Linked DNA regions of Homo sapiens. The protein of the gene in region 1 interacts with the protein of each later gene in a pairwise test. Each region holds a gene or a part of one and is shown on either strand. Other genes may lie near its edges. The genes, in order: TOMM6, SLC10A1, SLC18A2 and C1orf159.

Region 1 (7,202 bases):
TGGGAGACCCCAGAATTTGAACTTCAGAAATTCTGGACCAAAAGACCTGACCTCAAGTCCTGGCTCTGCCACTTACTAGCTGTTTGACCTTGGGCATGCTACTCAAGGTCTGATCCTCAGTTGGGCCATCTGTAAGATGGGGATAATGCTACCTAAGTCGTTTGGGTGTTGGGAGGACTGAGGGAAATAATATCTATAAAGCACTTAACACTTCCTAGCACATTGTAACGGCCTAATACATGGAGGTGTTCTTATTGTTTTGGGGTAGGCTTTGCCACAAATGTCAGTGCAGAACTCTGGCTGGCCCCACCAAGAAGACAGCCCCAAGCCCCAGGATCCAGGTCCACCAGCCAACTCAGACAGTGACTCAGGCCACCTGCCGGGGGAGGACCCTGAGGATACCCATGCTCAGGTAGTAGAGTCGTGCCCTTCCTCTGAGACCAACATGTCCTCTATCCTGTGGAGTGGCCACCCTTTTCCACCAACCCGGAGGTAGTTTGACTTCGTGCCTAATCTCTTGTTGCCTTTTTCTCTTTTCAGGAATTCCTGTCTCTGCACCTGCTTAGAACATGGGGTTTTGACTTTAAACTCATTCACATGAGTATTCATTATCTCTCCTAGGGGGTCTGTATTGTCAAACCAGACTCTAGGGGCTTTGGCCCCAAGGCGTGAAGGGGGTTAAGAAGGGAAAGCATAAGAAGGGAAGCTGTTTTGGGGTGTGGGGCCTCCCCAGCCTCCCTCAAGGAAGACCACACATGCAGGCATCAGTCAGCTATCCTTGCACTCAGTGAGGATCTGCAAGGAGGACCCTCCCAAATGGAGGGCATGCTTAGAAGCTGCTCTAGATTGGAGAAGAGGTGGCAATGATGAGGGGGAAAGAAGGAGAAAGGAAAGAAAAACCTAGTTTCACTCCTCCCCTTCTTCCATGTCTCCTCAGGGTCCTGCAGTTCTGAGCTTGGGTTCCCTTTGCCTGGACACCAACCAAGCCCCCAACTGGACTGGACTTCAGACCCTCCTGCAGCAACTCCCTCCGCAGGACATTGATGTGGGTCTCCTCTCCCCATCTTCCCTCTCTTGCCTTTCCCTCCCTCATCTCTTTTCTTACTGTGGGAAGAACCTCAGTCCAGAAGTTAGGGGATGTGGATTTAATGCCCAGCTATGGCACTGGTTGGGGCGTCATTCTCCCCCTGCCTGAGTTTTCACATTGGCAATAACAATAGCAGGTGCAATAACATCTGCTCTGCCCACCACAATGCTTAGTTCAAGAGCAAATGAGAAAATGGACATGAACGACTTTTGAAACGGATAATGGAATGTACAAATGTAGAGAGTATGGTTGTTACGTATTTATTGAGGGTCTACATGTGTCCAGCCTAAAGGCTTACAATTCAATTGGGGAGGCAAGACAGGAGTATATGAAATAATTTGAGGAAATGCAAGAATGGGAAGTGATACTGAGCTCTTAGCTCATTGGGAACAAGGACCTAATGGTGACAGGGCTAAGTGCTGTGGGCCTGTCAGGACCTGATTGATGACATTCCTAGTGGGGCAGGGTGAGACTGAGGTGGCTTTCTTGAGCTCCTTTCCTTTTCCATTTCCTCTTCTATGCCATTATCTCTGGCATCTCCCTGAGGTTCTACAACCTTTCTCTGACCCAGCAGCCAAGCCCTTTTTCCTCCAACCAATGCTCAATGTTTTCTGCTGGAGCTCTCCCAGTAATTGTAGAGGACTGTTTCTGCAGGAGCGCTACTGCCTGGCCCTTGGGGAGGAGGAGCGGGCCGAGCTGCAGCTCTTCTGTGCCAGGCGGAAGCAGGAAGCCCTGGGACAGGGGGTAGCCCGCCTGGTACTTCCCAAGCTTGAAGGACACACCTGTGAGAAGGTATGTAGCACCCCTCCCCCCAAATTCCCCTTCCTCTATTCTTTGCCCTCTCATTTCTGCAGAAGGGGCTGGGCTAGCTTCTGGGATTCTGGTTGGGAAACAGGAAAAACAGAAACCAAGTTTGCAAGCTCTTGGTATAGGTTGCAGTGGATGTGGGCTTGCTAGGGTATGGCGAGAACAGGTTGGGATCGGATTGCAAGAGCAAGGAGGGAAGTTAGGATGGTAGTGCTTACTCCGACCACCTCAGCACCTCCCCTCTGACAGTGTAGGGAGCTGCTGAAGCCAGGGGAGTACGGAGTGTTTGCAGCCCGGGCAGGGGAACAGCGCTGCTGGCACCAGCCTTGCTTTGCCTGCCAGGCCTGTGGCCAGGCCCTGATAAACCTCATCTACTTCTACCATGATGGACAACTCTACTGCGGCCGTCATCATGCAGAGTTGCTGCGCCCGCGCTGCCCGGCTTGTGACCAGGTACAGCCTGGAGGGGAGGAACTGGGGGTCTGCCCAGAGTCCAGAGTGGCAGGATACAAAGGGACACTCTCCTGGGCCACAGTTTCTCCCAGTATCAGGGAGTGGGGAGAAGTAGGAACCAGCCTGGGACTACCAAGTTCCCTGTGTTCTGACTTGAGCTCTGGGCATGTAGGACCCAGTGCCCTTCTCTCTGGCCTCCCCCACTGCAGAGTCCCTCAAATGTTCCTGGACTCATCGAATTTCTCTAGAGCAGGGAGTCTTGGACACATGCTCATCTCAGTAGATGCCGAGTGCCCAGTGCTGTGCCTCATCATGCTAGAAATTCCCTTGATGTCAGCATAAAAGGAAGCCTGGAGCCCTGGGTTGGGAGTCCAGACCCCCAGGTCGCACTGGGGATTGTCCCACTTGCTAGCTGGGATCCTGGCTAAGCCAATCAGTCCTCCCTGCGTCCAAAAGTGGCTGAGTGAATTAAATGGGAATGTGTGCAGACGTGCTTTAGCGTTAACTGGGTAAAAGGCGTGGTTACTGGATGAATGAATGAGGGAATGAATGAATGAAACGTTCCCCTCTCCCTCTCCCTCTCCCAGCTGATCTTCTCCTGGCGCTGCACCGAGGCGGAGGGACAGCGCTGGCATGAGAACCACTTCTGTTGCCAGGACTGCGCCGGGCCTCTGGGCGGGGGACGTTATGCCCTGCCTGGGGGAAGCCCCTGCTGCCCCAGCTGCTTCGAGAACCGCTACTCGGATGCAGGCTCGAGCTGGGCCGGGGCACTGGAAGGGCAGGCATTCCTTGGTAAGGGAGAGGATGCAGAGCAAAGCGGGAGGGAGCTTGGGCTGGGCTGTGGGGGTTCTCCCGGGCTGGGACCCTCGCCCCGGTCCCACGCCGTCCCGTCCCTCCAGGAGCGCCCCCACCGCACCCCCCAGACCCAAGCCTCGGGGCCCGCAGCTCTCACCGCGCATCCCTGGCCGGAGCGTTCCAAGGGCCGCCCGAACCCACCCCGCGCCGCGGTCGGGGTTGCGGCGCCAGACTCCCTCCCAGGCGCGGGAGGCGGACGCCCTCTGGTGGAGGCGGGGGACCCTGGCGAGGACTCTCGGCGGCGGCGGCGGCGCGCACGGCCCAGGGGCTGGGCGGGGCGGGAGGCTGGGCCTCACCCCCACTAGCTGCGGTGTAGGTCCAGCTCCGCGGCTCTGAGACCAGCGTTTCCGACCCGGCCCGGAACAGGGGAGACTGGACTCGACCGAACTGAAGGAAGGGACCAAACCTCGGTGAACTCTGCAACCCTCTCCCGAACACTCCTCGCTGCTGCCGGCGGTTCCAGCCTGCAAACTCAGAGGGGGCTGCCTGGATCCAGTCCCCAGCAGGAGAACCGACCTGGGGACAAAGCGGAGGCACCCAAAGGGCAGGAGCAATGCCGCCTGGAGACTATTCGTGATCCCAAGGACACCCCTTTCTCCACCTGCTCCTCCTCCTCTGACTCGGAACCTGAAGGATTTTTCTTAGGCGAGCGCCTTCCCCAGTCCTGGAAGACCCCCGGAAGCCTCCAAGCAGAGGACAGCAACGCCTCTAAGACGCACTGCACCATGTGCTAGTGGCGCAGCTCAGAGAGGGGATGTGAGTGGGAGGAAAGGGGTCTGTAAAGCGGGAGAACAAGGCTAGCCTCCCCCTAACAATCCTAGACTGAGACGCAGTCAGGCGCACGCCCGCAAGAGGCGGCGAGGTGACAAGTTTGGAGTGCGCCCCCTTCAGTACTGCGCGTTCTAAGACTTTTGGCGGAGACTTTCTTGGCAAAACCCATTCCCCAAAGCTACGCTTCCCCTGCTGAGATAGCCCCTACCCCCACCTCCACAGGCTGGGACAGCCCCGTCCCCACCATCCTCCTCCCAAGCCAATTAAATGATCACAGCACGCGTGACAGTTACCGGCTGGAGAGCCGGAGGTGGGACCGGGAGCAGGGGACCGTAGAACCGGGCCGCGCTCCTCCCCTCCTAGAGTTCGTGGAGGCGCAGCAGAGGGCCGTCCCTCTTCCGGATGTCGGACTAAGCGAACAGCGCCCCCACTGCCGGCCGGTAGCAGCCGGAAGTGCCAGACCGGAGGTGCGTCATTCACCGGCGACGCCGATACGGTTCCTCCACCGAGGCCCATGCGAAGCTTTCCACTATGGCTTCCAGCACTGTCCCGGTGAGCGCTGCTGGCTCGGCTAATGAAACTCCCGAAATACCGGACAACGTGGGAGATTGGCTTCGGGGCGTCTACCGCTTTGCCACTGATAGGAATGACTTCCGGAGGTAACCGAGCCCGAGGAACTTGGTCCTTTTCTGGCCCTTAAATCCGTATTTCCCCTTTCTTGCGAGGCTGGCGCCTCAGGGTTTTTTGTTTTTGTTTTTTAACATTACCAGCATTGTGGCGTCTTCGTAGCTCTGGCTGTGCCTCACTGAGATCCCTGGCCAGGAGAGTTCCCGTGTGGCAAAAGCGATCTTTCTGTCATGTGGCTGTATCTGTAATGTCACCCTGATCAAGGGAAGAAGTGCTAGCACGTAAACAGGCTTTTTCGGCCCTGGACTAGTGCTTTAGCTGGGCTTTGCGTTTGATCTTACATTTCTTTTTTGTTTTTTTTTTTTTTTTGAGACGGAGTCTCACTCTGTTGCCCAGGCTGGAGTGCAGTGGCGCGATCTCGGCTCACTGCAAGCTCCGCCTCCCGGGTTCACGCCATTCTCCTGCCTCAGCCTCCCGAGTAGCTGGGACTACGGCCGCCCGCCACCACGCCCTGCTAATTTTTTGTATTTTTAGTAGAGACGGGGTTTCACCGTGTTATCCAGGATGGTCTCGATCTCCTGACCTCGTGATCCGCCCGCCTCGGCCTCCCAAAGTGCTGGGATTACAGGCGTGAGCCACCACGCCCGGCCTTTTTTTTTTTTTTTTTTTTTTTTTTTGAGACGGAGTCTCACTCTGTCGCCCAGGCTGGAGTGCAGAGGCGCAATCTCGGCTCACTGCCCCTTCTGCCTCCCGGGTTCAAGCGATTCTCCTGCCTCAGCCTCCCCAGTAGCTGGGATTACAAGCGCGCGCCACCACGCCCAGCTAATTTTTGTATTTTTAGTAGAGACGGGGTTTCACCATCTTGGGCAGGCTGGTCTCAAACTCCTGACTTCTCGATCCACCCGACTCTGCCTCCCAAAGTGCTGGGATTACAGGCGTGAGCCACCGCGCCCGGCCACATTTATTTCTTTTTGAGACAGCCTCGCTCTGTCGCCCAGGCTGGAGTGTAGTGGCGGACCTCAGCTCACTGCAGCCTCCGCCTCCCGGGTTCAAGCGATTTTCCTGCCTCAGCCTCCCCAGTAGCTGGGATTACAGGCGCGCACCACCACGCCCAGCTAATTTTTGTATTTTTAGTAGAGACGGGGTTTCACCATGTTGGCCAGGCTGGTCTCGAGCTCCTGACTTCGTGATCCGCCTGCCTTGGCCTTCCAAAGTGCTGGGATTACAGGCGTGAACCACCGCGCCCAGCCTGACCTTACACTTACTAGGCACAAAAATGAACTCCAAATTCCCACGTGGGTCTTGAGCAACCTGCCGTCACAACCACGTATCAACGCCTCGGGAAGGTGGTGATGGAAGCCTTTCCCCCCAGTACATTTCGTTAACTGTACAACTGACTCAGTGACCACAGGGTTAATAAAACACATTGTTTTTCCAGGAACTTGATACTAAATTTGGGACTCTTTGCTGCGGGAGTTTGGCTGGCCAGGAACTTGAGTGACATTGACCTCATGGCACCTCAGCCAGGGGTGTAGCCAAGTAGGTAAGCACTGAACTACACCCATGCGTGTCTTAGGAGACCTAGAGACTGGGTGAAGCAATGTTTTCTGTCAAGTATTCATGAAATGTACAAAAGAATGTGATGTAAAACCCTTAACTATTCCTAGTTAAATGTGTTTTCAGATGTTGAAAGGGATTTAAGTATCTCTTACCAGTTTCCCTCCCATACTTTTACAGTTCTAATGCCACCTGTCGTCTTATCATCTGATTGCAGACAAATGGAATCCTGTGCTGAACCCGAATCTTCCAAAAAACAGCCTACAATCTGTGACCACCACAAGATGTGCCCTGATGGCAGCTGAAGTTTGATTCAGATGGGCACTTTTCTTCCCCTTCCCTGCCTAGTTTCCTTTTGTTCCTTGAGTCCACGCAGAATTCCATTCTCTGGTCAGCAGACAGGCTTAAGCTAAAGTATTGCCTCTATTCTGTAAAGTTCTGTACATAGTTCCCAAGCTTCTGCAGGGGGTGATTTTTGCTCTTGTCCTGAGAAATAACAGTGCTGTTTTAAAAAACATTTGAAATAAATACCGCACACAAAGGCAGTCATTTTATTCTTTTAATAAGAAACTTTTGCTTACAAAAACAAGGTGTAAAAAGATTTACAAAAATCATAAAAACATGATTTATATTTCACACTTGAGAGACAAAAACAAGCCCCAAAACATGGATTTTAATGGAGGTGGTTTGCTTCATTTTAAAAGGGAAAAAAAAAAAAGGAAGCTGTAACCATACATTGATGTTAACCTAGCATGAAGTTTATTCTTGAAGAATTTACATTGTTGAGCAATATTAGGGGAAGAAGCCATTTGGTGTTGCATAGCATTTTAGTGCACCAGATGGGTTTTCCAGACACCAGGGAGGCATCATTGCTGGAATAGTGAGGTTTGGTGGCAGAAAGAGGGCAGTGATGTGTAGGGGGAGGCAAAGTGAAGTAAGCCTGGGCAGTGGTCACTAAAGTGACACTGCTGAGGCAGCTGCTTCCTTCAGAAGGAAATGTTTTGTGACCCTAAAATTCATGGTAGTGCTACTGTCCAGGGTTTGG
Region 2 (7,955 bases), on another chromosome or scaffold:
AATGGAATGAGTTGCTGATTTCACATAAAATGGATATTTTACCTTCTTTTGAAAAGTGGGAAGCTCTGGCTCCCACACAATACTTGCTGCTGAGACACGGGTGTCTGCCCATGCCTTTGAGGCTGTCTGGCCATTTTGTTTGTGGAAATGCTGACCTGGAAGATATTTCAGTAAAAGCACAGGTTCCGGAGCCACCCAGACCTGGAGCCAATGTATTGACCTCTCTAAGATTCAGTTTCCTTACCTCTAAATGCTACTTGTTACATGCTGTCCCCCAGGGTGCTGTAGGAGGATCACATATACTTATCCAGGTAAGGTGTTTAGCACTGTGCCTGGCTGTTTCTTATAATCGTTGTCATTATTATAATGCATGTAACAAGTTGTCCCAAATTGGAATGGGATTTGAAGTCTGGCAGCACATGAAGGTAGATGACCAGATTCCCATTCCGACAGTGGGATCTGAGACATGGTTTAATGTGCATGGGAGGGTTGTTTGTTGGGAAGGAGTTTTATGGCAGAAGGTGGCTGTCCCAGCAGAGCTTATCTCTTGTGGGGGTCTAGGTAAAAATGACAGTCATCAGGGGTCTGGACAAGGAGGTTGAGCAGGAGAGCATGAGGGGTCATGTTCTTGAGTCACCAGAGGCTCTGCCTGGGTGGGGCCTAGAGCCACAGCAATGTAGGCATTGTGGCAGAGGCCTCAATAGTGGCCACTGGCGATGGGGCTGGGACATCTGGCCACTCACACTTAAAAGCACAGTTGCCTTCCACGTCCCCTGCTCTGCTTCTTCCACAGAAACACAAAGCCCTCAGAGTACCCCTTCGCAGGCCCCTGACTTCTGCATCCCTCATACACCAAAATTCAGATATACTCTAGGATTCTTGGGACACACAGGCTGCCATGAGCCTTGTCCAGAAGCCAGATCCAAGACCAAGGGCTTGCTTTGTAGCAGAGAGGATGTGGATTAGACAGAGGAAAGCATTTTCTCACAGTGAGGTAGTTGAACATTGAAATACCTTTCCGTGGGTGATGGCACAAGCCAAATGCCCTCTTTGTGCCTCTCTTCCCATTGACTACTAAAGTGAGGGCTGAATCATATGGAAAAAGAGCCCAGAGCTTCTCAGATGGCAGATCCTGTTAAACCCCAACTCTCATTCACTCTCACTTTTTTATTTCCTTTTTTTTTTTTTTTTTGAGAGAGAGACAGGGTCTCACTCTGTTGCCCAGGCTGGAGTGCAGTGGTGTGATCATGACTCACTGTAGCCTTGAACTCGTAGGCTCAAAGATCCTCTCATCTCAGCCTCCCAAGTAGCTGGGACTACAGGCATGTGCCACTATGCCTGGCTAATTAAATATATATGTATATATTTGTAGACACAGGGTTTTGCTATGTTGCCCAGGTTGGTCTTAAACTCCTGGTCTCAAGTGATCTTCCTGCCTTGGCCTCCCAAAGTGCTGGGATTATAGGTGTGAGCCACCGTGCCCAGCCATTCTCACTTTTTTCATTTAAAAAATCTGTCCCAGTGTCATTTTGCATCACTAGGAGGGGCTTCTTGACTGGGTTAGTTTTCCTAGGAAAGTTTGGCTAGGAGTAGGGTGCTGACAGACACAAGCAGATGGACTTTCTGGGTTCTGCTGCTATACCTGGCATTGAATAGCGTCTCCACGGAGGACTAAACCAGGGGGGACTGGCTTGAGACTGAGGTTTCACTGAAAGCAAGAGCTTCTGCTAGTGAGTTTTCTTTAGCTTCAGCACAGGCTGCTGGAGCTGGAGCAGGTCTGAAGTAGCTCCTCTGGCAGATGTTCAAGACTAGAGTCTCCCCAGTTTGGAAGGATGAGCATCAACCAGCCCCTGTGTGCTGCGTCTCCAGGAGCGAGCCCTTGCTGATTTCTGCTTATAATGCTTTGGGCAGGGGGTTAGGGGGTGCTGCTGTCTTCCCCTTATCAGGGTGGCTGAGATGGGGCTGGCCTATCTGGAGTGGGTGCTGGGAAACTCTAGGATCTCCCTGGTTGTGCCTTTGCATGGAAATGTCATTGCATCTGATGGGGAATGAGGGACTTTAAAGAGAAAACATCTTAGATGACCAGGTAATTGGGAGGACCTTTTGGAAATTCTTGCCCGCTTTGCAGGAATTTGAGGTGCTCATTTGGTTCCAAGTCACCTTGATCTCCCTGATGATGTTTGGAACGAATCACACTACCTTTTAAATCTCTGGGCTCAAAGCAGGCAACTTGTCCACTGTTGTAGGTGGATGCAGTTCTCCAGAGGTTCCTTTGGCTTTAATCAGTGCTCCTTTAAGACAATCCTTGAGACACCTCTGGAAGCAAGGAGATCACCACGAGCTTCCTGGACCAGTATGGTCCCTTTGGCTTGGTGCCTAAACCAGACGTACCCCAACTCCTGCCCCCATCCCAGCATAAGCTCTTGGCAATAAATGCCAGACTTCCCCTGCCCTAGCCTCCACCCAGCCTGCATTCACTCCTTTTCCTGGCTTTAGCCCAGCTCTTCCCCTCAATTGTGACATATCTAATGTAGCTCCTGTCCCAGGCTGTTCCCTCCTCACCCCCAGGCCTACCTGAGGTTCATGTCCCCCTTCATGGCCAGACTGAAGACATTGGACAGGTTCCCTCCAGGTGAGCAGCCACAGACCAAGATGGCCAGTGCCTCAATGTTCTTCAGCCGGAAGACCTTGCCCAGCACAAAGGCCGTGAGGGGCATGATGCCATACTGTGCCACCAGGGCGATGGCCAGCCCTTTAGGCTTCCATAAGTGAGCCTTGATCTTGCTGAACTCCATGGTGCAGCCCAGCGAGAGCATGATGAAGAACAACATGAACACCAGGATGACGCTCAGTGCCAGGTCTGTGGGGCGCTTGCCAAAGTTGGGTGGCAGGGTGAAGTTGAATGGGGCAGACGCGTTGTGGGCCTCCATCCTCCTGTGAGGCAGTGGAAGACCACTCCTTGTTCTCCGGCTGACTCCGTTTCTTGTGCAGTTCTTGCTGGATGCCTTCTTTAATCACCTCTCAGGACAGAGAGTTTCTGGACAAAAGCTCTGGGCAAATAGAAGGGTTATGCAACTATCTGAGCTATTTCTCTGGCTGTCGCCCCAAAGAGGAACAGCCCAGAACCTTATCTGCCTGCCCTAGCTCTCCCAAGCTCCCTGACCTCTGCTGGATTCCTGGGTGCTACTTGTACTCCTCCCTTGTCACTTTGCTGCTTCTGGGCTTATTTCTCCCCTTTGCCCTCCACTGAGTGTGCCTCATGGGCATTCATTCAGTTACTGGGGACCTGCCCAGGGCCCACCTGAATCTAGGTCCAGCCCATCTCCTTCCCTGCAGCTCCTTTTCCCAGCTCCGCTCTTGATTCCTTAGTTTCTTGGTTGGGGGAAGGTGCCCTCCCCATGTCCAGTGGGTTATCATTTGTCCCCAGAACCCATGAGAGTGAAAGGAGCTGGGTGTTGCCTTTGGTTCCTAGATACAGGTAGCATAGTCCAAGGGGGTGTGGGACAGGCAATGTCACTGGCCTCCAGGAGGGGATGTGTCCATGACCCTTTTCCTGGGAGCTGAGAGGATGCCAGTATCCTCCCTGCCTGTTCTGGGGAAATGTTTGTTTTATCCCCAAACTGGGACTGTATGAGTCCCAGGGAGGAATACTGGTGGTGGCTGCTCCACACTACCTGGAATGCTTACCATCAGAGGGAATAACCAGCTGGGATGGTGGGTGGGCTCTCAGGAAGCTTGGAGGCTCTTTCCCCGAAAAGCAACCTGAGAGAACCCTGGCTGTGGAGATTGCTTTGTGCCCGAGGAGGCCCATTGCTTGCAAAACTTGCTGAGAAGGAAGCAGGAATGCAGTCTTTTCTTCCTGACTTCCTGATTGCTTTACTTTTGCACTGGGCCTGTGTGTTTCAGGCTGGGAGCCAGGCTTGGGGCGTGGAGCAGAAGCAGAGAGAGGTGGGCATGCCAGGGGCGGGGCCACCTAGTGTGTGAGGTTATCCTAGGCCTTGCTCTTTCCATCTATCCCCACTGCAGAGGTGGGACAAGGGAGGAGGGGTCTCCTTCAGAAACACAATTGCTTCTTGGCTTGGTTGGAACCTAGGAGGCCTGGGTGGGGTCTGAAACAGGTGATTAGGCTTTGTATGTAGGACTCCAGAGGGCAGAATAGGGACCAGGGTGTGAACCACTGTTGGGTGGAGGTGGGGACAGATTTTGGCTTGGTGCAAGGAACCACCTGAAAATGAGAGCTCTCCAAGAATGGCCTTGAGGCCTCTGGAATCCTGCTTGGATAAGGGTTGGATGGCAGGATCCATACATATTGCATCATATCCATGAAAAGGCTGCTCCCTGGGCTTGCGCGGTGGGCAGCCTGCGGGGCCGTATACTGTGGCCCTGGGTGACATGAACTTGAAGCCTCTTTTCCTTTGAGAGTCTCTGCTAATGATTTCCTGGTGCTTGAGTTGGGCTGGTATCAAAGGGAGGGCAGGCAGAGGACTGGGCACTGGATGTGATGCCTGGACTGAGCGTTCCCACAGGGTAGGGTTGAGTCTCAGAGGAGGCTGCTTCCTCTCCCTGGGGCTAATCAGAAGGGAACAGAGTTGCTAGGGGAGAATTATTGATCACTAACTGAGTACCAGGCACCATGGGAGGCAAAAAAAATAAAAATAAATAAATAAAAAAAACTATATAATTCATGTTCCTGTTCTCAGGGACCTGATGGTCTGTACAAGACCACAGATGGCCAGATGGTACACAATGCAATATGGAAGCACGTGAGGGTGGAGGCCATGCAGGGCTGCCAGGTACACCTGTTCAGGTTGGGCACTACACAATGCTAGGGACGCCACTCTACAGATGTCTTGTGCAACCGTACATGAGGCCTTGAAGTCAAAGGGAGACGTTAGGTTTTTACACATTTGCCTGATGCCAAAGGGTGAGGAGGAATTGACCAATATCTGTTAAAGATCAGGGTCTGGGCATGTGTCTATTGTGCACATCCAAAGAGAAGAAGAGTTCCTATGAACACATTTGTAACCTGGATTCTAAACCACGTAGTCTCTATCAACTCTTCCTCCTCACCTCTTCTCAGGAACCCAAAATCCTTCCACCTCCTACTGTGAGTTTTTCCCTTTGAGAAAACAGTTTCTTGCCCTGGCTGCCCCTCCTCCCACTCCTTCCCATTCCCTCTGTTCCTAGCAATGTGACTTTGCAGAGAATGGAAAAATCTCTTCCAGGAACCTGACACCCTCCATTCTTTTCCCCATATCCCCTCAGAATCTACTCTAATTTAATACAATTTTGGAAACAGGAAGATCTTTTTGTGTTATGTTAATGATACCTGAGAGTTGTTGAGCACATGCTGTGTGATGGATGCTGTGATTTAAATTACATTTCTTTTTAACTTTTATTTTAGATTTAGGGGTACATGTACAGGTTTGTTGTTACAGACAAACTTGTGTTATGGGGGTTTGGTGCACGGACCACTTTGTCACCCAGGTACTAAACATAGTACCTGATAGTTCTGATAGTTATTTTTCCTGATTCTCTCCCTTCTTCCACCCTCCTCCCTCAAGTAGGCCCCAGTGTCTGTTGTTCCCTTCTTCGTGCCCATTAGTTCTCATTATTTAACTCCCACTTATCAGTGGGAACATGCAGTATTTGGTTTTCTGTTCCTGCATTAGTTTGCTAAGAATATTGGCCTCCAGCTCCATCTGTGTTCCTGCAGAGAACATGATCTCATTCTTTTTTACGGCTGTATAGATTCCATGATGTATATGTACCACATTTTCTTTATCCAGCCTACTGTTGATGGGCATTTAGGTTGATTCTATGTCTTTGCTATTGTGAATAGTGCTGCAATGAACACACGTGTGCATGTGTCTTTATGGTAGAATGACTTATATTCCTTTGGGTATATACCCAGTAATGAGATTGCTGAGTTGAATGGTAGTTCTGTTTTTAGTTCTTTGAAAAATTGCCACACTATTTTCCACAATGGTTTAACTAATTTACCCTCCCACCAGCAGTGTATAAGTGTTCCCTTTACCTTGAATGTAAATGGGCTAAATGCCCCAAATAAAAGGCACAGAGTGGCAAGCTGGATAAAGAAGCAAGGCCGAACAGCATGCTGTCTTCAAGAGACCCATTTAACATGCAATGACACCCATAGGCTTAAAATAAAGGGATGGAGAAAAATCTACCAAGCAAATGGAAATCAGAAAAAAGCAGGGGTTGCAATCCTAATTTTAGACGAAGCAGACTATAAGCCAACAAAGATGAAAAAAGACAAAGAAGGGCATTACATCATGGTGAAGGGTTCAAATCAACAAAAAGGCCTAACTGTCCTAAATATAGATGCACCAACCGCAGGAGTACCCAGATTCATAAAGCAAGTTCTTTTTAAAAAATAAATAATTGAAATTTATTTTTTATAATTCTGGAGGCTGGAAAGTCTAAGATCAAGGTGCTGGCAGATTCAGTATCTGATGAGGGCTGCTCTCTGCAGATAATGCCTTGTTGCTGCATCCTCCAGAGGGGGTGAATGCATAAAGCAAGTTCTGAGAGACCCATGAAGAGACTTAGACTCCCACACAATAACAGAGGGAGACTTCAACACCCCACTGACAGTATTAGACAGATCATCAAGGCAAGACGAATCATCAAAGCAAAGATACTCAGGACCTGAACTCAACACTTGACTGAATGGACCTAGTAGACATCTATAGAACTCTCCACCCCAAAACAACAGAATATACATTCTTCTCATTGCCACATGGCACATTCACTAAAATCAACCAAAGAATTGGACATAAAGCAATTCATAGCCAATGCAAAAAACAAAAATAAAATTATACCAATCACACCCTTGGACAACAAAGCAATAAAAATAGAATTGAGTACAAAGAAAATTGCTCAAAACCATACATTTACATGGAAATTAAACAGCCTCCTCGTGAATGACTTTTGGGCAAATAAATTAAGGGAGAAATCAATAAGTTATTTGAAACTAATGAGAACAAAGATACAGCATACCAGAATCTCTGGGATACAGCTAAGGCAGTGTTAAGAGGGAAATGTATAGCACTAAATGCCCACGTTTTTATTTAGTCTTCACAATAGCCTTATGAGATAAGATGCTATTGCTATCCTTATTTTATAGGTTAGGAAAAGGCTTAGAGTGGTTAAATAATCTGCCCAATTTGCATGGCTAGTGAGTGGTACAATTGGTATTCATGCCCAGCCTGGTTCCGGGCCCCAGCTGCTCTTCTGACCTGCTCCTTCTTTTGCCTCATCCTGTCTCCCGAGTTAGCCTGCTTTTTGAGACCTGAAAGCTTTGACTGGAAAAGATCCTGTGATTGCATATTTTTTCCAAACTGGCCTAGACTTGTTCTTTCACAGGCTGGATGTAGCAAGCAACACAACAAACACAACATCCAAACAATCATGGGGGGGTAGTGGTGGCTGTGTAAATTTTACTTAAGGGACATTTTAATTTCATCTCTGGCAAAAGTCAGCTATTTTCCCAGATTCTGAAGTGGCATAAAAAGCCTTCAGTCAGCCATTGCTCTTGACAGTAGAATTCTACTTGTAGAAAATTATCCTATAGAGATAATTGCTTGAGGATCTACGTAAAGAGATTTTCACTGCAGCATTGCTTTGTAATAGTGAACTATTGGAAATAACCTAAATATCTATTAGTAGGTGATTGGTTATGGCCCATTTAAAAGAATGTAGCCATTAAAAAATATGGTAGTGACTTATGGTATAAATGTGGCTGTAGAGGCTGGACATGGTGGCTCATGCCTGTAATCCCAGCACTTTGGGAGGCTGAGGCAGGAGGATTGCTTGAGTCCAGGAGTTCCAGACCAGCCTGGGCAACATAATAAGACCTAGTCTCTACACAGAATAAAAAATTAGCGAGGTGTGGTGGCAGGCACCTATATCCCCAGCTACTTAAAAGGCTG
Region 3 (7,022 bases), on another chromosome or scaffold:
CGTCTACCTCATAGGATTGTTGTGAGGATTAAATGAAAGAATCCCAACAGAGTGACTGGCCCTGTGGCTCAAAAAGTGTGTTCCTATTTCCAATATCACCCCACTCTTTCCTGCTTATCTAACTCTCTGGCTTCCCCCGTCAGTCCAGCAATACCTGAATTTTCTCCCTTTTTCCTCCTCTGTGATGTGAGAGTTTCCTTTTGCTATACAGACCCCAGAACTCCTGAATGGGCTCCCCTTGCCAAGCCGGCAAACATCAGTGGCTGTTGTGATGTCCGTTTGTGAACGGCAGCCTGATGGCTTATCTGTGGCCTTGGGGAAATGAATGAGGTCAGAGGATGAGCAGAGAATGTGCTTGCCCAGCCAACTACCACTGTGTTCCGCAGAAGGACTGGCAGAAGGCAGGCCTCAGTACCCCTCCTCTTTCCCCATTTAAACGAATACTTCAGTTCATGTTTTAAAAAAATGCTGAAGGAAGTGGAAGAGACGATCCTGAAAGGCCAAACAGTAAGAATTATAGGTTTCCAGGAAGCCACTTTCACTGCAAGATGTTACAATCCTTAATAAGCACCTAGCAAGATAAATCATTAAAAACTTGAGAAGGTGTGCATCTCGCTGCCCATCAATGATGCCCATAATTGAAGGCATCACATTGGATGCCATTTGACTGGCCTAATGGTGACATTTGAGAGTGGTGGCCAGCAGTTGCTGCCTACTCATTGTGCAAGCAGAGCAGGAAGCCAGCGGTGGCGGCCGACAGCACCTAATGATAAGGGGGCATGCAGGCAGGACAGCAGTGTGTGAGGGAGGAGGAAGAATCAATGACCATGCAGTTGAGAAACCCCAGAGCAGACAAGTGCTGGCGTTCAGGATGAGCAGTTGCCAAATGCTGGGGGATGTGAGGGCCAGAAGGCATACGACCCTTAGCAAATCATTCTTCCATTAGACAGCATCCTGATAACAAGGTGTTTGGACTTAAGCTGTTTTATATTGTAAGATATAATGCTGTTTTCATGGATCACAAGTGACAGAATCATGAACTAGTTTATAAGCATGTGAGTTTGTCTTCCATTTGGTTTACTGGATTTCTGTTTTTTATAATCAGCATTATCAGTATAGGTGGAGGAAAAAAACTGTTACTCAAGTCCCTCTGCACATACAGGAAATATCAACATTACCATTTGAGGAAAAGTGTCTTATAAGACAGTTACACGGTAGCGCTTCACTCTCAAAATTCCCAGTTGAGAAGAGCTGTGTTGCGGATTTTTTTTTCCAGGTTGAAGAATTATTTTTAAAGACAAGTCACGCTTCTTAATTTTACTCTTGAAGTTTCTAATTGTTGCCAAGACAAGAAATTAGGTGGTTTGAGGATTGCAGCTTTCTTTTCCTGGATGGCTCTGATAGTTGTTCCATAAAGCCCTTCCAGCAATAGCTCTGTTTTCTGGATGCCATGCGTGGGGCAAGGATGGGGTGGCCCGAGGCTGCTGAGATAGACCACATTCTGCATATTCTAAGTTGTTTATAGAATTTGTCCCTTTGCAGGTATTTAAATAGTGGGTGCAAAACCATCATTGCTTTTCTAGTTATGTTAAAGAGAATAAAACTTTCCTACTCAGAAGGCCCAGGACCTATCATCAAAATCTCAAAGACTGGCACTCTTATCTTTTAATGCTTTTATGGGTTCACTACCCCAGCTTTGTATTACTTATACTTTTCATTTGGTCCACCATGTTGGTTTGTTTGTACCACTTAGGAGATCCTAACTCATGAAAGGGGCATTTGGAGGGGCTGGGGCTCACCTCTCAGTAAGAGGGCTTTGCTCTGAATTCAAATGCCAATCCTCTCCTATTGATTTTCTCTTTGGTTGAGAGTCAAACACACCTTCCTCACCACAGCAGTGTGTGGAGAGCAGATTTAATTTACCTGCCTGCACTGCGGCCGCCCTACTTGTTCCCCGGGCACCTGACTGACCTGCTTGATGCTGTTCATGCCTTTCTTCATGGCACTTTTGAAACATTACATGCCACCTGGCTTATTTGTGTATAACTTTTTTTTAAAAAGTACAATTATTGCACAATAGATCTTTCAAGAGAGGTTTGGAAGCCAGTGAGCTAGGTTTTAAAGGCTACAGAACATTTAAAGGAGGAAAACTTCACCTGAAACAGGCTGCTAATAAATATGTTTTTGGTGAATTGACAAATGCTGGTCAGTTAAGTATGCATGATGCCAAATAGTCTGACTGAACTGCTTTTCCTGCAGTGCAGTTTTTTGTTGCGTTCCTATCATGTGCCCAGTCCTAGGTTCTGGGGTCCTTAAGATGACATATTCCTACATTCAGGTCTAATGTGGATGAGCCAAGAGATGGAAGGCAATTAGGAATAAGGTAGTGATGACCGTTCTTTATAAGGTGACCTGCCTGCCTGGGAGCCGTGCAAGGATCGAGGCCCCATGCCCTGCATTCCAGTTGGGTGTCCCAACTGGTATCTCACTGTGCCTCCTCAGCAGACCTCTGTGGTGGCCAGGCTGGCTTACTTAGTGTCCTGCTTGGTAAATAACTCATGTTTTACTCATTGCCACCTCCCTTGCTGTCCAAACCTTTTCCATCTTTCAAAGTTTACCTCAACTCCCGCCTCTATAGGATAGCGTTCCCTGGGCACTGAACCAGCAGTGAGCACTCCACCTGGGACCCTGGAGTCCCTGTCCTTGCCTGTGCAGGGAGGTAACTAAGATGCTGGGATAGGACCTTAAAGGCACTGAGATGCAACACCTAGTAGGTGTCCCGTCAGCTGTTGTCAGCCAGATGACAGTGCTGTAGTCTTAGATAATGCCATGTAACTAGGGCAGTGTTTCTCAAAGTTGACACTGTTGTCACATGAGGACAGGGCCCTCAAATTTCATTTTTTAACCTGCTCCATCTCTCCACCCCTACATTTCCTTGCGAATCATTAATCTGGGGGAGATGAGACATTTATTGTTAGGGGGGTTAAACCTTTGTGTTACATGGGGAGAACGGTCCTGGTGTACAAAGTCTAGTGCCGCCATTATTTTAAAAATTGAGCTCTTTATTGAATACAAGTATCAATTCACTTGGCAAGCAGCATAAAAAACAGTTAAGTTAGAAGCTGACAGGTTGAGCTGGCAGCCTAACTTAGAGGGTCAAGGAAGTCCTTATCTTCACATGTTACACAGATCACTGGATAATGTCTTGGGAAATGATAAATGGGTTAAGCACTGAGTCGAGTCTTATCTGGGGACAAGAGCTGGGAGTAATAGCTAACAGACAAGATGGGTTACAATAGGCCAACATCAGATACATTTTAATCTATTTAGATTTGCAAACTGCAAAAAAAATATTGGGGAGTAGTTCACATGGAGAAAAACTCAAGACATACCTGATAATTCATTTTAGTTGCACATGACGCCCCCTTGCCATCCTCTGTGCTCATCTAACTACCACGGAGTGCTGCAGGCGGCTCCTGTCTGCCCCATCCTAGCTGTACACCCCTCGGTCAAATTCTTTAACTGCTCCGTGCCTGTTTTCTCACCTCCCACAGAGGGTTATTGTGATGTATTGCCACTAAAATGCTTAGCATGGTCTTGGCATGATAAATGCCAGCTATCAAATATAAGCAAATACTATTGGACAATCTGGTTTGAAAGCAGAGCAGCACGTTTTTGTCACAGTTTTTAAATTTTCAGTAACAATAAAGGAGGGCATGAGAGTTTCATGCTCATCAGAAGAGGATTTTTAAAAAATCATATATTTTAGCTAGAGGACAGCCAGGATTGGGGACAGGCGGTCAGGAAATCACATGTGTGAAAAAATAATAGCTCTAGCATGTTTTGCCTACTAAGAAATCTAAGGGGCCATGACAATATGGTCTTAAAAGATTGGGGGCCAAGCATGGTCACTTGCACCTGTAATCCTACCACTTTGGGAGGTTGAGGCAGGAAGATCACTTGAGCCCAGGAGTTTGAGCAACCTGGGCAATGTAGTGAGATGTCATCTCTACAAAAAAAAAAAAATTAAAAATTAGCCAGTCTTGATGGCATATGCATGTAGTCACAGCTACTCGGGAGTCTGAGGTGGGAAGATGGCTTGAGCCTGGGAAGCAGCAGTGAGCTGAGATCGCACCACTGCACTATGGCATGAGTGACATTCTGTCTCAAAACAACAACAAAAGATTGTAAGGGCAGCCTGTGAAGATATCAGAACTGGCTGGGTGCAGTGGCTCGTGTCTATAGTCACAGCACTTTGGGAGGCTGAGGAGGGGGGATCACTTGAAGTCAGGAGTTTGAGACCAGCCTGGCCAACATGGTGAAACCCCATCTCTACTAGAAATACAAAAAAAGTAGCTGCGAGTGGTGGTGCACACCTGTAATATCAGCTACTTGGGAGGCTGAGGTGGGAGGGTTGCTTGAACCCAGGAGGTAGAGGTTGCAGTGAGTCAAGATCACAACACCGCACTCCAACCTGGGTGACGAAGCAAGACTTCATCTCAAAAAAAAAAAAAAAAAAAAGAAAGAAAGAAAGAAAGAAAAAGATACCAGAACCAGATTCATGAATGCAAACAATGGAAACGGGTTGTAGTCCAGACTTAGGTACATTTCTCACATGTGAGGGCTTCTCTCATTAAGGAGAGAGCACATCCTTTCAAGGTGTGTTGCTACAATGACGTCTGTAAACAGAAGTTGGACTGGGTGACCTCCAGGATCCCCATACCCCAATTCCAAGATTCTAAGTATAACAAACCTAACCTGCCTGTCCCTTGCTTCATAGAGTATAAGTTCCCAGAGTGGACTTATGGCCCCTGACAGGTATAATGAAAATACTGCAGAGACCACTTCTGTCTCCAATTGCCTGGAATTTTTAGAGTGTAGAACTACAGGTCTTTTAGGTCAGGCGTCTGGCGATTGCTCCAAATGACTGGTTAATAGCAAGTAATACTACATAGTTTTCAAACTAATAATCCTTAAAAACAGTAGGTTAAAACCATCTTATCTTTATGAAACAAGAAGTTAATATACTTGCACTTTGCTCTCTTTTAGGCTATTCTCATGGATCACAACTGCCCTATTAAAACAAAAATGTACACTCAGAATAATATCCAGTCATATCCGATAGGTGAAGATGAAGAATCTGAAAGTGACTGAGATGAGATCCTCAAAAATCATCAAAGTGTTTAATTGTATAAAACAGTGTTTCCAGTGACACAACTCATCCAGAACTGTCTTAGTCATACCATCCATCCCTGGTGAAAGAGTAAAACCAAAGGTTATTATTTCCTTTCCATGGTTATGGTCGATTGCCAACAGCCTTATAAAGAAAAAGAAGCTTTTCTAGGGGTTTGTATAAATAGTGTTGAAACTTTATTTTATGTATTTAATTTTATTAAATATCATACAATATATTTTGATGAAATAGGTATTGTGTAAATCTATAAATATTTGAATCCAAACCAAATATAATTTTTTAACTTACATTAACAAACATTTGGGCAAAAATCATATTGGTAATGAGTGTTTAAAATTAAAGCACACATTATCTCTGAGACTCTTCCAACAAAGAGAAACTAGAATGAAGTCTGAAAAACAGAATCAAGTAAGACAGCATGTTATATAGTGACACTGAATGTTATTTAACTTGTAGTTACTATCAATATATTTATGCGTTAAACAGCTAGTTCTCTCAAGTGTAGAGGACAAGAACTTGTGTCAGTTATCTTTTGAATCCATAAATCTTAGCTGGCATTAGTTTTCTATGTAATCACCTACCTAGAGAGAGTTGTAAATTATATGTTAACATGTTATCTGGTTGGCAGCAAACACTAAAGCCAATAAAGGAAAAACAGTAAATGTTCCGAAAGCAGAGAAAAGCAACCAAACATATTGTTATGAACTAAAAGCTTTCCCTTTAAGATGCATACTTGTCTTACTGGATGAAGAAAATTGAGGGTACATGTACCTTATACTGTCAAGGTTGTTTAAACATGATAAGGTTAATCGCCATCTACTTCAAGTTTTAGAAAAGGAAACAAGAAGCTGAAAACAGCTGCTCTGACTTTAATATCTGACTATATCTTTGATCTGTTTGCAGGTCATCCAAGTGTTTTCTAGGAATATATTTATTTTAGGTTGTCTGAAACTACTATTTTTTAGACTCCTGAAAGTTGTTCACATCAATGTGAAGACAAATTTTAAATGAAAATGAAGAATGAAATTATGTCTTGAATCATATATTAAGAAGTAAAAATAATAGTGATCAGGCAGAAAAGAAAAATGGAACATCTAAAAATGTATGTGCTAACTATATCATCCAGTGTGCAGTGTTGTGTATTTTTCTAAGCATGACAACATTGATGTGCCTTTTCAGTGTAACAGCAAATACTGTTAGTGAACATTGTCAATTTATGTCATTTTGTTAAGAGATATGACTGGAGTGTGCAGTGTGGAATGTCTCTAATACTACTTGTGAATCCTGCAGTTCTATAATCATAAACAAAAATTACTTAGTTTCGTTAAGCTAAGATTGTGTTTGTGTTAACTTCGACATCAAGGAGCAAAGAACTTTAGAACAGACTCCTCAATCTTGTGACTTTCTTATTCTCTAGGAAAGTAACACTTCGTTTCATGAAGCTTTTCTGTGGGGCTTCGATTATTTCAAGTCTGGTTTCTAAGTGCAGTGTGTTTGAAGCAAACGAACTTCCAACTCACTTATTTGGCATTGGGCAACTTGGCCAAGTCTGCCACTTTGGAAGATGGCTCTGGAGGAAACTCTCATATGGCTAAAAAGGCAGGCTAGTTTCTTACTTCTACAGGGGTAGAGCCTTAAAAAAGAACGTGCTACAAATTGGTTCTCTTTGAGGGTTTCTGGTTCTCCCTGCCCCCAATACCATATACTTTATTGCAATTTTATTTTTGCCTTTACGGCTCTGTGTCTTTCTGCAAGAAGGCCTGGCAAAGGTATGCCTGCTGTTGGTCCCTCGGGATAAGATAAAATATAAATAAAACCTTCAGAACTG
Region 4 (7,022 bases), on another chromosome or scaffold:
CATTCTCCTGCCTCAGCCTCCCGAGTAGCTGGGACTACAGGTGCCTGCCACCACAACCGGCTAATTTTTTGTATTTTAGTAGAGAAGGGGTTTCTGCATTTTGGTCAGGCTGGTCTCGAACTCCCAACCTCAGATGATCCACCCACCTCAGCCTCCCAAAGTGCTGGGATCACAGGCGTGAGCCACCGCACCCCACCGACTAAGGCAAGTTTTAGAGCAGGAGTGAAAGTTGTTGAAGAAGCTTTAGAGCAGGAAGGAAAGGAAGTACCCTTGGAGGAGGGCCAGACGGGCGATGTGAGAGATCAGGTGTGCGGTTTCACCTTTTGACTTGGGGTTTTATAGCCTGGCAGGCTTCTGGGGTCTTGCACCCCTTCTCCCCTGATCCTTCTTCAGGGTGGGCTGTCCACCCATGCAGCATCTTGCTAGTACTTGGGCGGGAGCATGCGCCATGTGTTCCCTGGAGGGAGGGAGCATGCCCGGTGTGTTCACTGGAGGGAGGGAGCATGCCCCGTGTATTCACTGGGGGGAGGGAGCATGCGCTGTGTGTTCACTGGAGGGAGGGAGCGTGCGCGTTGTGTTCACTGGAGGGAGGGAGCATGTGCCGTGTGTTCACTGGAGGGAGGTAGCATGTGCCGTGTGTTCACTGGAAGGAGGGAGCATGCGCTGTGTGTTCACTGGAGGGAGGGAGCGTGTGCGTTGTGTTCACTGGAGGGAGGGACCGTGCGCCGTGTGTTCACTGGAGTAGTGCCCATGCTCACCTGAGGCGTTCTTCCGTTACCTGTCAAACGTCCCTAGAAGGTCATAGAACGGTTACACGCCGCCATTTTGCCTCTCAGTGCACACGCTTGAGCCAACTCGCCCAGTTCCTGAGATCGTATCGGGAAGCTGCCCATCACCGGATTTCATGTGTTTTCTAGCTATTGGGAGCCTGTCTTTCCCTGGCGCTGGGTGCAACCAGTTCTTTTAGACAGTTAACAGCCACCTGACCATCACCTGATGGTGGCCTGACATTCCCGGTGGGGGGATGGGCCCGATCCTGCCCTGCTCACGTCTGCTGAGCCACCTACGGCAACCGCCCGACTCCGGTGTGCTGAGCCCACGGGTAGGTGGGCAGCGACTACCATGCATGTCAACAAAGGGGGATGTCTCCTTTACACCCCATCAAGGGGTTTGCGGTATTTGTTTTCTATCAAAGCACGAGAGGGATCTTTAGGTAGAGAGGCCCCAGACAGTTCTTATTGGGCCCTTAAAGCTACGTTTCACGTTGGCTTCCTTTGCTTGCTACGAAGATGACCAGCATTAGCTACACGGATGCAGTGGAAGCTCCAGCCAGCCCTCGGGGCTGTGTTTACCGAGGTTCAGCAGCGTGAGAAACCCGCCAGTGGACCCTCCCGCCTCCCCTTTTCAGTTACTGCTGCCTGGGCGGCTGGAGTTACGGTGAGCGTGGGTGTGGTCTACCCACTGCCCCAGCCGGTGGTTGCTTTTACAGGGTTGTTTTGCAAGATGTTACTTATTTAAAATCACAGTGACCTGAGGCATCATTTTTTTCTTGAAACCAGTTCTTTGTTGTTGTTGTTGAGACGGGGTCTGGCTCTGTCGCCCAGGTAGAGTGCAGTGGTGCGATCATGGCTCACTGTAGCCTTGACCTCCCAGGCTCAAGAGATTCTTTCACTTCAGCCTCCCAAATAGCTGGGACCACAAGTATACGTCACCAAGCCCAGCTATTTTTTTTTTTTTTTTTTTTTGGTAGAGATGAGATCTCACTCTGTTGTCCGGGCTGGTTTTGAACTCCTGGGCTCAAGCGATCCTCCCACCTTGGCCTCCCAAAATGATGGGATTGCAGGCCTGAGCCTCCACACCTGCCCTGAAACCAGTTCTTCTAAGGGAAAATAAGAGTGGTCAAAGAGTGTATAGCACAATTTAAATTCTCACTAAATTTTTCATTGCCTTGTAGAAATTTTCATCCCATTATTTAGCTTTTTGGCTCCAATGAGATTTTCAAAATAGAAAATGCATGTGTTTAGTTACTAAGGCATAATTTACATGCAGTGAAACACACAGAGCTTGTGTCCAGTTCAATTGTTTTGACAAAGGATTCACCAGACTCCTGTCGTGATGTAGAATCTGCCTGTGATCCATGGAGATTGCCTCGCAGGCTGCTCCAGCGCCCGCCTGCCGCGCCAGACAGGAGCGCTGCTGTGATTTTACCGACACTCTGAGTGTTAGGAGTCACACGTGCGGGCGGTTTTGCGTCTGCCACGGCTCACGCAGAGAACTGTTGTTGAGCTTCCTCTGAGGTGCTGCACAAGGAGTGGGTGTGGGATGCGCTGTTGCGTGCTCGTCGTCTCTGAGGGCGCCCGGGTGGGTTTCCGCTGTCTGAAGAGTTGGGCCTATTTTTGTGCACGTGTTTGGCGGGCGTGTGTTGTTTCTCTTGGGAACGTGCCCGGGGGGAAGGCTGCATCCCAGGTGTGGAAGTCCCAGCGGTTCTGTGTGTCCCCACAGCCGAGAGGCTGAGTGCCGTTTGGTCGTGGAGGCTTTAGTTTGCATTTCCCTGACGCTCACCCGTGTTGAGCACTGTCCACTCATCTGTTGCCATTCGCACACGTTTTCTGAGTGTCCGAGGATGTCTTTTGCCCATTTTTTTGATGACCAGATTGTGAAAGTCCTTTATATATTCCATATTCAGGGCTTTTGTCTGGTACGTGTACTGTGACTATCTCCCATTCTTTGATTTGCCTATTAATTTTATTACTGATGTTGTAAACTAAGAATAAAATCCTAAGTCCCCCGCCGACTGAACGAGCTCCCTCTTGGTCAAGGGGACCCCAGAGAAACCTTAAAAATTGAGTTTCCGGCCATAAAAGGATGGGAGGTTGGACACACCTGGTTATACTGCCACCCTTTTTCAGTTTAGACACAACTGACCAACATTAGTGTTAAAGTGGAGATCACGAGACTGACAGACTCTGCGGCAATAAGACGCCGAGTTATAATCAGGACCTAAGGCCGTGCCAGGCCGGGGTTAAGTCACACACCCTTACAGTTAAAGAATAAGGCTTGGGTTTTCTTTTCCTCTAGCAGTTAAGCAGGCACTGGCCTGAGACAAGCGGTATGGAAACAGTGATGGCTCGCTGCCAGGCACTAACTGACCCCCCATTTCACGGCCATAACTACAGCGTCACTTTCCATAACTTCCTCCTGATAAGACACCACTGGCCACGGACTGGTTCTGCTGGTCTATGGAGGATGTGACTGGAGTGACTCCCGGGCCGCGCCTCACCTTTGGCCATATAGGGCCTAATTGTCTTACATGTAAATGTGAAATCTCACCTCTCAGTGAACATGGGTCCTGCGTTACATGCATGTTTATCTAGTACACATGCATTAAGACAGGAGAGAGGAGCGCTTGAGCCCAGGAGTTCAAGACCAGCCTGCGAAACACAGCAAGACACCCTTTTTACCAAAAAATAAAAATAAAATTAGCCAGATATGGTGGCAGGCATGTAGTCCTAGCTACTTGGGAGGCTGAGGCGGGAGAGTTGCTTGAGCCCAGGAGTTCAAGATGGCGGTGAGCTATGATTGCACCACTGCACTCCAGCCTGGGCAACAGAGCAAACCCATCTCTAAAAGAAAGAAAGAAATTTTAAAAAGGAGGAAAGGAAAGAAAGGAGAAAAGAGGAAAGGAAAAAGGAAAGGAAACTGTTCCCATTAAACACTAACTCCCCATTCCTCCCTGCCCCCCAGCCCCTGGCAACCACCGTTGTCTTTTCTGTCTCTATGAATTCGACAACCCTGGGAACCTCATGAGTAGAATCATACAGTATTTGTCCTGTTGTGATGAGCTGCTTTCACTTAGCATAGTGTTTTCAAGGTTCATTCCTGTTGTAGCATGCGTCCAAAATTTCTTTTCAGGACTGTAGAATATTCCACGGTCTGTATAGACCACCTTTTGTTTATCCATTCATCTGTGGGTGGACACTTGCTCCCACCTTTTGGCTGTGGTGAACAATGCTGCTGCAGACATGGTGGCTGTGGTGAACGGTGCCGAGACATGGTGGCTGTGGTGAACGGTGCTGCCGAGACATGGTGGCTGTGGTGGACGGTGCTGCTGAGACATGGTGGCCGTGGTGGATGGTGCTGAGACATGGTGGCTGTGGTGAACGGTGCTGCCGAGACATGGTGGCTGTGGTGGACGGTGCTGCCGAGACATGGTGGCTGTGGTGGACGGTGCTGCTGAGACATGGTGGCCGTGGTGGATGGTGCCGAGACATGGTGGCTGTGGTGAACAATGCTGCTGCAGACATGGTGGCTGTGGTGAACGGTGCCGAGACATGGTGGCTGTGGTGAACGGTGCTGCCGAGACATGGTGGCTGTGGTGGACGGTGCTGCTGAGACATGGTGGCCGTGGTGGATGGTGCTGAGACATGGTGGCTGTGGTGAACGGTGCTGCCGAGACATGGTGGCTGTGGTGGACGGTGCTGCTGAGACATGGTGGCTGTGGTGAACGGTGCCGAGACATGGTGGCTGTGGTGGACGGTGCCGAGACATGGTGGCTGTGGTGAATGGTGCCGAGACATGGTGGCTGTGGTGGACGGTGCTGCCGAGACATGGTGGCTGTGGTGGACGGTGCTGCTGAGACATGGTGGCTGTGGTGAACGGTGTCGAGACATGGTGGCTGTGGTGGACGGTGCTGCTGAGACATGGTGGCTGTGGTGAACGGTGCCGAGACATGGTGGCTGTGGTGAACAGTGCCAAGACATGGTGGCTGTGGTGGACGGTGCTGCTGAGACATGGTGGCTGTGGTGAACGGTGCCGAGACATGGTGGCTGTGGTGGACGGTGCTGCTGAGACATGGTGGCTGTGGTGAACGGTGCTGCTGAGACATGGTGGCTGTGGTGAACGGTGCTGCTGAGACATGGTGGCTGTGGTGAACGGTGCTGAGACATGGTGGCTGTGGTGGACGGTGCTGCTGAGACATGGTGGCTGTGGTGAACAGTGCTGAGACATGGGGCTGTGGTGAATGGTGCTGCCGAGACATGGTGGCTGTGGTGAATGGTGCTGCTAATGTGTCTAGAATTGGTGGATTCTTGGTCTCACTGACTTCAAGAATGAAGCCGCAGACCCTCGCAGTGAGTGTTACAGTTCTTAAAGATGGTGTGTCCGGAGTTTGTTCCTTCTGATGTTCAGATGTGTTTGGAGTTTCTTCCTTCTGGTGGGTTCGTGGTCTCACTGGCTTCAGGAGTGAAGCTGCAGACCTTTGCAGTGAGTGTTACAGCTCATAAAGGCAGTGCAGACCCAAAGAGTGAGCAGCAGCAAGATTTATTGCAAAGAGCGAAAGAACAAAGCTTCCATAGTGTGGAAGGGGACCCGAGTGGGTTGCTGCTGCTGGCTCCGGCAGCCTGCTTTTATTCCCTTATCTGACCCCACCCACATCCTGTTGATTGGCCCATTTTACAGACAGCTGATTGGTCCATTTTATAGAGAGCTGATTGGTCTGTTTTGACAGGGTGCTGATTAGTGCGTTTACGATCCCTGAGCTAGACACAGAATGATATTTACAGTCCTCTAGCTAGACGTAAAAGTTCTCCAAGTCCCCACTAGATTAACTAGACACAGAGCAGCGATTGGTGCATTTACAAACCTTGAGCTAGACACAAGGTGCTGATTGGTGCGTTTACAAACCTTGAGCTAGACACAGAGTGCTGATTGGTGTATTTACAATCCTGTAGCTAGACATAAAGGTTCTCCAAGTCCCCACCGGATTAGCTAGATACAGAGAGTGCTGATTGGTGCATCCACAAACCCTGAGCTAGACACGGAGTGCTGATTGGTGCATTTACAATCCTCCAGCTAGACATAAAAGTTCTCCAAGTCCTCACCCGACTCAGGAGCCCAGCTGGCTTTGCCTAATGGACCCAGCGCCTGGCCGCAGGCAGAGCTGCCCACCAGTCCAGTGCCGTGCGCTACACTCCTCAGCCCTTGGGTGGTTGATGGGATCGGGTGCCGCGGAGCAGGGGGTGGTGCCCGTTGGGGAGGCTCGGGCTGTGTGGGAGCCCACGGGCGGGGGTGCGGGGGGCCTCGGGCATGGCAGGCTGCCGAGCCCTGCCCCGCGTGGAGGCAGCTGAGGCCCGGCAAGAATTCGAACCTGGTGCAGGGGGGCTGGCAGTGCTGGGGGACCCTCCACAGCTGCTGGCCCAGGTGCTAAACCCCTCACTGCCCAGGGCCGGGGGTGCCGGCAGGTGCTCTGAGTGCGGGGCCCGCCGAGCCTGCACCCACCCAGAACTCACGCTGCATGCAGCCCCGGTTCCCGCCTGCAGCTCTCCCTCCACACCTCCCTGCAAGCAGAGGGAGCCGGCTCCGGCCTCGGCCAGCCCAGAGAGGGGCTCCCACAGTGCAGCGGTGGGCTGGAGGGCTCCTCAAGTGTGGCCAGCGTGGATGCTGAGGCCCAGGAGGTGCTGAGAGTGAGTGAGGGCTGCTAGCATGTTGTCACCTTTCACTAAGACATGGTGGTTGTGGTGAACAATGCTGCTAAGATATGGTTGTACAAATGTCTCTTGGAGTCCTGGTTTTCAGTTCTTCAGGGTGTAGAACCACAAGTAAAGTTGCGGGGTCATAGAGTAATTCTGTGTTTAATTTTGTGTGTGTGTTTAGTTTTTTGAGAAACTGACATACTGTTTTTCACACCATTTTATATTCTCAGCAGCATGCACAAGGGTTCCATTCTCTCCACATGCGTTTGCCAACATTTATTTCTGTTTTTTTGGTAATAGCCATTCTAATGGGTGTGGAGTATTTCATTTTGATTTTGATTTGCATTTCCCTAATAGTGACATTAATCGATAGTTTTTAATTGAAGTATTTAATTTAACCATTTGTATTTAATGTAGGTGTTAGAGTGTTTGGGTTGGAGTCTACCATCTTTATGTTCGATTTCTGTTTTTCCACCTGCTTTTCCCTGCTCCTCCTTTGCTTCCTTTTTTGTAGGTAGAGGGATCAAGTTGTCTTCAATTTTATCTCCTCTG

The links.
Region 2: the proteins of TOMM6 (region 1) and SLC10A1 interact in binary tests that used the Homo sapiens proteins (3 or more experiments, as listed by UniProt).
Region 3: the proteins of TOMM6 (region 1) and SLC18A2 interact in binary tests that used the Homo sapiens proteins (3 or more experiments, as listed by UniProt).
Region 4: the proteins of TOMM6 (region 1) and C1orf159 interact in binary tests that used the Homo sapiens proteins (3 or more experiments, as listed by UniProt).

The regions. Positions count from the first base shown.
Region 1 is NC_000006.12:41,783,194-41,790,395, forward strand, and holds TOMM6 (mitochondrial import receptor subunit TOM6 homolog), read left to right. Parts: upstream 1-4,500; 5' UTR 4,501-4,504; coding exon 4,505-4,632; intron 4,633-6,038; coding exon 6,039-6,135; 3' UTR 6,136-6,143; intron 6,144-6,337; exon of another isoform or gene 6,338-6,374; 3' UTR 6,375-6,702; downstream 6,703-7,202. Other genes in the region: PRICKLE4 (prickle-like protein 4), read left to right, coding at 281-412, 938-1,045, 1,742-1,879, 2,144-2,347, 2,935-3,139, 3,569-3,936.
Region 2 is NC_000014.9:69,794,226-69,802,180, forward strand, and holds the start of SLC10A1 (hepatic sodium/bile acid cotransporter), read right to left. Parts: upstream 3,017-7,955; 5' UTR 2,931-3,016; coding exon 2,575-2,930; intron 1-2,574. UniProt on the Homo sapiens protein: As a major transporter of conjugated bile salts from plasma into the hepatocyte, it plays a key role in the enterohepatic circulation of bile salts necessary for the solubilization and absorption of dietary fat and fat-soluble vitamins.
Region 3 is NC_000010.11:117,272,113-117,279,134, forward strand, and holds part of SLC18A2 (synaptic vesicular amine transporter), read left to right. Parts: intron 1-5,049; coding exon 5,050-5,154; 3' UTR 5,155-7,022. UniProt on the Homo sapiens protein: Electrogenic antiporter that exchanges one cationic monoamine with two intravesicular protons across the membrane of secretory and synaptic vesicles.
Region 4 is NC_000001.11:1,106,089-1,113,110, reverse strand, and holds part of C1orf159 (uncharacterized protein C1orf159 isoform 2 precursor), read left to right. Parts: intron 1-7,022.